2 separate regions of the Homo sapiens genome follow, and region 2 is linked to region 1. The links come from fine-mapping of genetic effects on gene expression. A gene starts in region 1. The other region holds a variant in brackets. All regions are shown on one strand. Distances are between the middles of the regions. Region 1 holds the start of TRAPPC6B (trafficking protein particle complex subunit 6B). Region 2 has its middle 27 kb from the start of MIA2.

Region 1 (4,387 bases):
GATGGTAGTGATGAGGGCAAGAATGTCATCTAGACATAAAGGACCTGATTTCGCATAACTGAAAATTTAGTGCTGGAAAAATTAAGATTACCATGGCAAAATACTCTTCAAAATTACACAATTTAGTGTTTTCAAAGGCTTAAGTGGAGCTTTTATGCTGGATTTACGTGATGAATGGAATAAACTGATTCAAACATTAGAAGGGACATGCTTAAAAAAAAAACCTACCACAATTAAAATTTTGGAACATGATCTTAAATTCCTGTGAAAGGGCATGAAGAGTTTGTGTGTGTGTTTCGTTTTTTGAGACGAAGTCTTGCTCTGTCGCCCAGGCTGGAGTGCAGTGGCACAATTTCTGCTCGCTGCAACCTCTGCCTCCCAGGTTCAAGTGATTCTCCTGCCTCAGCCCCCCGAGTAGCTGGGATTACAGGCACCTGTCACCACGCCCGGCTAATTTTTGTATTTTTAGTGGAGACGGGTTTTCACCATGTTGGCCAGGCTGCTCTCAAAACTCATGACCTCGTGATCCCCCCCACCCCCCGTGCCTCGGCCTCCCAAAGTGCTGGATTTTACAGGCATGAGCCACCTTGCGGTATGTTAATTTGGGGGAAAACAACAGGGACAATTGGGGAAAAATTTTGTTTTGTGAATTACCAATGGAAGAACTAATCACAGGCTAAGCAACATGCTTACGGTTGAATTTGCCAAATTTAAGATGTACATACTATGATGTAGCATGTGTATTTATTTGCACATGCAGTGGGACAATTCCTACAGTTGTCTCACACTGCTGTAGATTATTAGCAACTCCATCCTGCAGTGACATCGCTTTTCTGAATTCTATAGCACTTTTCACCTAATCCTCTGATTAGTCTGTATTTTCCGGTTCAAGTGTATCTTGTTTTTCGTTTGCTCCACTTCCCTTGTCCCTTGCACCCCACTAACAGGAAAATTCCTGGTGGTCAAAATGGCTCTAATTCTTTTTGTATACCCGGGCTTAATTCAATAGGAATTGGGATAACTTTTCAATATTTAAAAAATTTGCACTGTGAAAACGTATATTTTAAACTCTTTCTACAACTTTTCATATTTGAAGAACATATGGCAGGAAGTGGATGCTTTTGATGAAGCCAAAAGAATTTTTTTAACTTCTATTGCTAATTAACAAGGAGGTGGCCGCGGGAGCTCTTTTTTTTTTTTTTTTTTTGAGACGGAGTTTCACTCTTGTTGCCCAGGCTGGAGTGCAGTGGCGCGATCTCAGCTCACCGCAACCTCCGCCTCCCGAGTTCAAGCGATTCTCCTGCCTCAGACTCCCGAGTAGCTGGGATTACAGGCATGCACCACCAGGCCCCGCTAATTTTGTACTTATAGTAGAGACGGGGTTTCTCAGGCTGGTTCGAACTTCCGACCTCATGTGATCCACCCGCCTCCGCCACCCAAAGTGCTGGGATTACAGGCGTGAGCCACCGCGCCCGGGCCAGGCGGGAGCTTTAGGTCTTATTTTATCTTGCTCTGCCCCCGACATCGTGGTGAGAGGGGAACCTTCCTCATATCTGGGCGCTGGCCTCTCCGGGCTTGGGAGAGAGGAACTCAGTGATCATAGAGCTGGCCGAATGCCGGGGTAGAGGGGACCGGAAGTTGTTTTTTTCGCCCCCGCCCAGCGGCCGGATCGCATCTCAGCTGGTTGGCTTTGGTTAGAGCTCCCGTCAGACTTTAGTTCGGCCCTAGGATTTGGTAGCCCCGAAGTGTGGGCTCTCTCCAGTACCAGACTCATTTCAGTACCAGCCTTTGGGAAGTCGTGTGAATACCTCGGTCTCTTAGCCACAGGGATAGAATGGCGGCCTGACGGAGCCGCGGCGCCGGCGAAGTCGCTGAGGCGCGAGCTGGAACCCCCAGACCAGCTCAAACGGGAGCCAAAACTCGAAGCTTGGAAGAATTAGCAGGAAATGGCGGATGAGGCGTTGTTTTTGCTTCTCCATAACGAGATGGTGTCTGGAGTGTACAAGTCCGCGGAGCAGGGGGAGGTGGTGAGTGCTGCCACACAACCTTGAGGTCCTTTTGCGGTGACACACCTTGTTTCCCCTCAGTGCTTTCCTTCAACCCCTGTCCCATCGCCACCCGACGCCTCCCGAGGTGTACACAAAATGGTCCACCTCCAGGTGTCCTAAACCCTAGAACCTGTCAGTTGTCTCCTTTGAACCGTCATCTTTCATCGTTTTCTCTTTCGTATCTTCTTCTATTTGATTCTCTTTTGTCTATTCCCGTACGTTTGTCTTGCACGCCACAGATTTTGGTACTTTTAGTGTTGTCCCTGCCATTATTTACGAGAGGGTTAACTGCAGAGCCTACTTAGTTTTGCTGGCACTTCCAGCACTTGAGCCATGCACTGGACAGACCTGTGCCAACCTGAGAAGCCTGTCCCTCCTTCCTCATTCCTAATGCTCAGTACAACTCCACACAACTTGAGACCTGAAGCCTAATGAAGGTTGAGTTTGCAAAGGAAAGTTTGCAGGCGTTAGGATAATTAGGGAACATAATTTAAATTAATTATTTCAGAAAGTATTTATTTAGTGCCCTTATGTCAGAGCGATTTCTAGGTGCCAGGGATATAGTAGTGAATGAAACAATGGCCCCATCCTTGTAGAGATTTTTTTTTAATCTAATTTAATCCGAAATGTGATAGTATGTAGCGGTTACTTCTAATATGTGGGAGTCCTTATTCAATCATTGTGGGCCTGTCACTGCTGACACTGCTAGATAAATTAAATAAAATAATACTCCTGCCTCACAGTATTTAGGGAATAGTGATTTAATGAATAGTTAACACTGAGTATTGGCTGGTAGAATCATGGAGTTGTAACGGATTTTAGAAATACTCCAAAGTCATGCTCAAGTCAGGAGCCCTTTCTTTAATGCTATTGATAAAAAATGAGTGGAGAGTGGGGATAGGAAATGTATCCTAGGCAAAGATAAAGTGGTAGAGGTATGAAAGAGTGGTGGATTTAAATACACTTAAGCATTTCTTTGGACTAGACTGAATAGAGAGTGAGAAGAATTGAGAGGTGAAGTTAGAAAGCTTTGTGTAATTAAAGAATTCGGATCTTTTCGAGGGAATATTTTTAAGGAAGGGAATGATGTGGACCATTTGCATTTTAGAAAAGTAATCCAGTGTTTGGGCTAGAGAGGGAAGATCCTTGTAGGGGGAAAATCCTTTATTACGGGAGTCACTGCAGGAGGAGATGAAGATCTGGATTAAGACAGGGATAGTGAGAAAAGGAGATAACAGATTTGAAAGTTAGAAAGTGGAATTCTGTAGGCCTTGTTTAAGGATGGGAGTGGGAGTTGAAAATTATCGTCAGGTTTTCAGCTTGAGCAGCTGGGTTGGATGGTGGTACTATTAATCAGAAAAGGAAATAAAGGAGAAGAAAAAAATAAGGAGGTAAGATAATGAGTTATTTCGGGGCAGGTTGAACTTTTGAGGTGCCTGTATGACATCCAAAAAAAGGTACTGCCAGTTTGCACAAGAAGGATAGGCAGGATACATTTGGAAGGTTATTGGAAATGAAGCGAATTCTATTCTTATTCAAATGACCCATCTATAATAGAGATTTTTTTCAAGTCACAAACTTCTGACTTTATTATTGACCTCAAGGTTTACTGTTTGTGCAAAGCTAGCCTTCCTTTTCCCTCTAGAACAGTTAACACACCCCTTTTACTTTTTTGTCATAACCCCCGATCCCCCCAAACCACTTGCGTATTCAGTTCTCTTCATTCTCCCCTCCCTTCTTACCTTTCCTCTTCTCTCTCTCTCTTTTTTTTTTTTTTTAGATGGAGTTTTGTTCTTGTCTCCCAGGCTGGAGTGCAGTGGTGTGATCTCAGCTCACTGCAGCCTCCGCCTCTTGGGTTCAAGCGATTCTCCTGCTTCAGCCTCCTGAGTATCTGGAATTACAGGTGCCGGCCACCATGCCTGACTAATTTTTTTGTATTTTTAGTAGAGACGGAGTTTCACCCTGTTGACCAGGCTGTTCTTGAACTTCTGACCTCAGGTGATCTGCCCGCCTTGGCCTCCCAAAGTGCTGGGATTACAAGCGTAAGCCACTGCGCCTGGCCCTTTTCTGACTCTTGTCTAGAATAATATTTTTTCTTCTTTTTAAAATATCTTTTTTTTTTCCCGTGGGTTAATCCTAAATAAAATGAACAGAGCTGTTCTACTCAGGCCTGATAATTTTAAGAGATGGACTAACATACAAGAGAAAGGAAGTTCATAGTTTTGAATCATTTAAGCTAAAAATAACTTTCTTTTTCTACTGCAGTGTATTTATGATGGGGGGGAAAATTGAAAGTACATAATAAGCAAAAATTATATAAATAACAGTTATGTGGTAGT
Region 2 (4,387 bases), 37 kb before region 1:
ATACTTTAAACTTTTCCCCATTCAGTATTATGTTGGCTGTGGGTATGTCATAGATGGCTTCTATTACATTAAGGTATGCCCCTTGTATGCTGATTTTGCTGAGGGTTTTAATCATAAAGCGATGCTGGATTTTGTCAAATGCTTTTTCTGCGTGTATTGAGATGATCATGTGATTTGTTTTTAATTATGTTTATGTGATGTATCACATTTATTGACTTGCATATGTTAAACCATCCCTGCATCCCTGGTATGAAACTAACTTGATTATAGTGAATTATCTTTTTTATGCGCTGTTGGATTCTGTTAGCTAGTATTTTGTTAAGGATTTTAACATCTATGTTCATCAAGGTTATCAGTCTGTAGTTTTCTTTTTTGGTTTTGTCCTTTCCTGATTTTGGTATTAGGGTGATGCTGGCTTCATAGAATGAATTAGGGAAGGTTCCTTCTTTCTCTATCTTGTGGAATAGTGTCAAAAGGATTGGTACCAATTCTTTGAATGTCCGGTAGAATTCTGCTGTAAATCCATCTGGTCCTGTACTTTTTCTTTGTTGGTAATTATTAAATTAACATTTCAATCTTGCTGCTTGTTATTGGTCTGTTCAGGACATCTAATTCTTCCTGATTTAAGCTAGGAGGGTTGTACTTTTCCAGGAATTTATCCATCTCTTCTAGGTTTTCTAGTTTACGTGCATAAAGGTGTTCATAGTAGCTTTGAATGCTCTTTTGTATTTTAGTGGTGTCTGTTGAAATATCTGCTGTTTCATTTCTTAATGAGGTTATTTGGTGGATTTTCTCTCCTCTTTTCTTGGTTAAGCTTGTTAATGCTCTATCAATTTTATTTATCTTTTCAAATAACCAGCTTTTTGTTTCATTTAGCTTTTGTAATTTTTTTGTTTCAATTTCATTTAGTTCTGCTCTGATCTTGATCATTTCCTTTCTTCTGCTGGGTTTGGGTTTGGTTTGTTCTTGTTTCTCTAGTTTCTTGAGGTATGACCTTAGAATGTCAGTTTGTGCTTGTTCAGTCTTTTTGATGTAAGCTTTTAGGCTATGAACTTTCCTCTTAGCACTGCCTTTGCTGTATCCCAGAGGTTTTGATAGGTTGTATCATTATTGTCGTTTAGTTTGAAGAATTTTTAAATTTCCATCTTGATTTCATTTTTGACCCAGTGCTCATTCACGAGCAGGTTATTTAATTTCCATGTATTTGCATGGTTTTGAAGGTTCCTTTTAGAGATGATTTCCAGTTCTATTTCACTGTGGTCTGAAAGAGTACTTGATATAATTTCAATTTCTTAAATTTATTGAGACTCATTTTGTGGCCTATCATATGGCCTATCTTGGAGAAAGTTCCATGCGCTGTTGAATAGAACGTGTATTCTGTGATTGTTGGATGAAATGTTCTGTATATATCTGTTAAGTCCATTTGTTCCAAGGTATAGTTTAAATCCATTGTTTCTTTGTTGACTTTCTGTCTTGACCTGTCTAGTGCTGTCAGTGGAGTACTGAAGTCCCCCACTATTATTGTGTTGCTGTCTATCTCATTTCTTAGGTCTATTAATAATTGTTTTATAAATTTGGGAGCTCCAATGTTAGGTGCATATATGTTTAGGATTGTGATATTTTCCTGTTGGACAAGGCCTTTTACCATTATATAATGTCCCTCTTTGTCTCTTTTAACTGCTGTTGCTTTAAAGTTTGTTTTATCTGATATAAGAATAGCTACCTCTGCTTGCTTTGGGCGTCCACTTGCAAGAAATCTCTTTTTCCATCCCTTTACTCTAAGTTTATGTGAGTCCTTATGTGTTAGGTGAGTCTACTAAAGGCAGCAGATAGTTGGTTGGTGAGTTCTCATCCATTCTGCAGTTCTGTATCTTTTAAGTGGAGCATTTAGGCCATTTACATTCAATGTTAATATTGAAATGTGAGGTACCATTGCATTCATTGTGCTATTTGTTGCCTGTGTACCTTGGGTTTTTTGGTTTTGGTTTTTGCTTTTTAACTTGTATTTTTGTTTTATAGGTCCTGTGTGATTTATGCTTTAAAGAGGTTCTGTTTTGATGTGTTTCCAGGATTTAAGATTTTTTTTTTTTGAGACAGAGTTTCAATCTGTCTCCCAGACTGGAGTGCAATGGCACAATCTTGGCTCACTGCAACTTCTGCCTCCCAGGTTCAGGTGGTTCTCCTGCCTCAGCCTCCCAAGTAGCTGGGATTACAGGGGCCCACCACCACGCCTAGCTAATTTTTGTATTTTTAGTAGAGATGTGGTTTCACCATGTTGCCCAGGCTAGTCTTGAACTCCTGACCTCAGGTGATCCACCCGCCTCGGCCTCCCAAAGTCCCAGGATTACAGGCATGAGCCACTGCCCCCAGCCTGTTTTAAGATATAGAGCTCCTTTTAGCAGTTCTTGTAATGGTGGCTTGGTAGGGGTGAATTCTCTCAGTATTTGTTTGTATGAAATAGACTGTATCCTTCTATCATATGCAATGCTTAGTTTTGCTAGTTACAAAATGCTTGGCTGATAATTGTTTTGTTTGAGGAGGCTGAAGATAGGGCCC[C/T]ACACCCTTCTAGTTTGTAGGGTTTCTGCTGAGAAATCTGCTGTGAATCTGATAGGTTTTCCTTTATAGGTGCTTCTGTATCACAGCTTTTAAGATTCTTTCCTTCATCTTAACTCTAGATAACCTGATGACAACCTGATGACAATGTGCCTAGGTGATGACCTTTTTGTGATGAATTTCTTAGGTGTTCTTTGTGCTTCTTGTTTTTGGATGTCTAGGTCTCTAGCAAGTTTGGGGAACTTTTCCTCAATTATTCCCCCAAATATGTTTTCCAAGCTTTTAGAATTCTCTTTTTCAGGAACACTGATTATTCCTTTTTTTTTCTTTTTCTTTTTTTTTTTTTTGAGACAGAGTCTCACTCTGTTGCCCAGGCTGGTGTGCAGTGGCACAATCTCAGCTCACTGCAACCTCTGCCTCCTGGGTTCAAGCGATCCTCCTACCTTAGCCTCCTGAGTAGCGGGGACTACAGGCACATGCCACCATGCCCGGCTAATTTTTTGTACTTTTAGTAGAGACAGGGTTTCACCATGTTGGCCAGGCTAGTCTCAAAACACCAATTATTCTTAGGTTTGGTAATTTAACACAATCCCAGGCTTCTTGGAGGCTTTGTTCATATTTTCTTTCTTTCTTTTTTTTTTAGATGGAGTCTCGCTCTGTCGCCAGGCTGGAGTGCAATGGCACCATCTCGGCTCACTGCAACCTCCGACACCCTTGTTCAAACGATTCTCCTGCCTCAGCCTCCTGAGTAGCTGGGATTACAGGCAGGCACCACCACACTCAGCTAATTTTTGTGTCTTTAGTAGAGATGGGGTTTCACCCTGTTGGCAAGGCTGGTCTCAATCTCCTGACCTCGTGATCCGCCCGCCTCAGCCTCCCAAAGTGCTGGCATTACAGGCGTGAGCCACCCTGCCCAGACTCATATTTTCTTATTCTTTTTTCTTTGTCTTTGTTAGACCTTGTCTTCGAGCTCTGAATTTCTTTCTTCTACTTGTTCAATTCTACTGCTGAGACTTTCCAGAGCATTTTGCATTTCTATAAGTGTGTCCAGTGTTTCCTGAAGTTTTGATTGTTTTTTCTTTATGCTATCTATTTTCCTGAATATTTCTCTCTTCACTTCTTGTATTGTTTTTTGGATTTCTTTGTGCTGGGCTTCACCATTCTCTGGTGCCTCCCTGATTAGCTTAATAACTAACCTCCTGTATTCTTTTTCAGGTAAATCGGGGATCTCTTCTTGGTTTGGTTCTACTGCTGGTGAGCTACTGTGATTATTTGGGGGGTGTTACAGAGCCTTTTTTTGTCATATTACCAGAGTTGGTTTTCTGGTTCCTTCTCATTTGGATAGGCTCTATCAGAGGGAGGGTCTAAGGCTGAAGGCTGTTGTTCAGATTCTTTTGTCCCTTGAGTCTTCCCTTTTCCTATGGATGTGGCTTCCTGTGAGCCAGACTGCAGTGATTGTTGTCTTTCTTCTGGATCGAGCCACCCAGCACGTCTACCCAGCTCTGGGCTGGTACTGGGAGTTGTCTGCACAGAGCCCTGTGATGTGAACTGTCTATGGATCTCTCAGACATGGATACCAGCACCTGTTCTGGTGGAGGTGGCAGGGGAGCGCAATGGGCTCTGTGAGGGTTCTTAGCTTTGGTGGTTTAAATGCTCTATTTTTGTGCTAGTTGGCCTCCTGCTGGGAGGTGATGCTTTCCAGAGAGCATCAACTATGGTAGTATGGAGAGGAACCAGTGGTGGGTGGGGCCCTTGAAGTCCCAAGATTATATGCCCTTTGTCTTCAGCTACCAGAGTGGATAAGGAAGGCCCATCAGGTGGGGGCAGGGCTAGG

Evidence for each region. PIP is the estimated chance that this variant, and not a neighbour inherited with it, causes the effect.
Region 2: its variant is the best candidate, but not a certain one, in a credible set for the expression of TRAPPC6B in whole blood (INTERVAL, PIP 0.88).

What each region holds. Positions count from the first base shown.
Region 1 is chr14:39,167,655-39,172,041 of GRCh38, reverse strand. It overlaps TRAPPC6B (trafficking protein particle complex subunit 6B), which reads left to right and starts at 1,709. Exons shown (of 6, transcript NM_001079537.2): 1 at 1,709-2,027. The coding sequence starts at 1,947. RefSeq lists enhancers at 482-1,071, 1,853-1,902, 1,662-2,251.
Region 2 is chr14:39,204,233-39,208,619 of GRCh38, reverse strand. It overlaps the pseudogene LOC100313942. Among named protein-coding and RNA genes, the nearest start is that of MIA2, 27 kb to the left of the region's middle. RefSeq lists enhancers at 3,590-4,357, 3,679-4,387, 4,358-4,387. The variant C/T (reference allele first, on the strand shown) is at 2,557.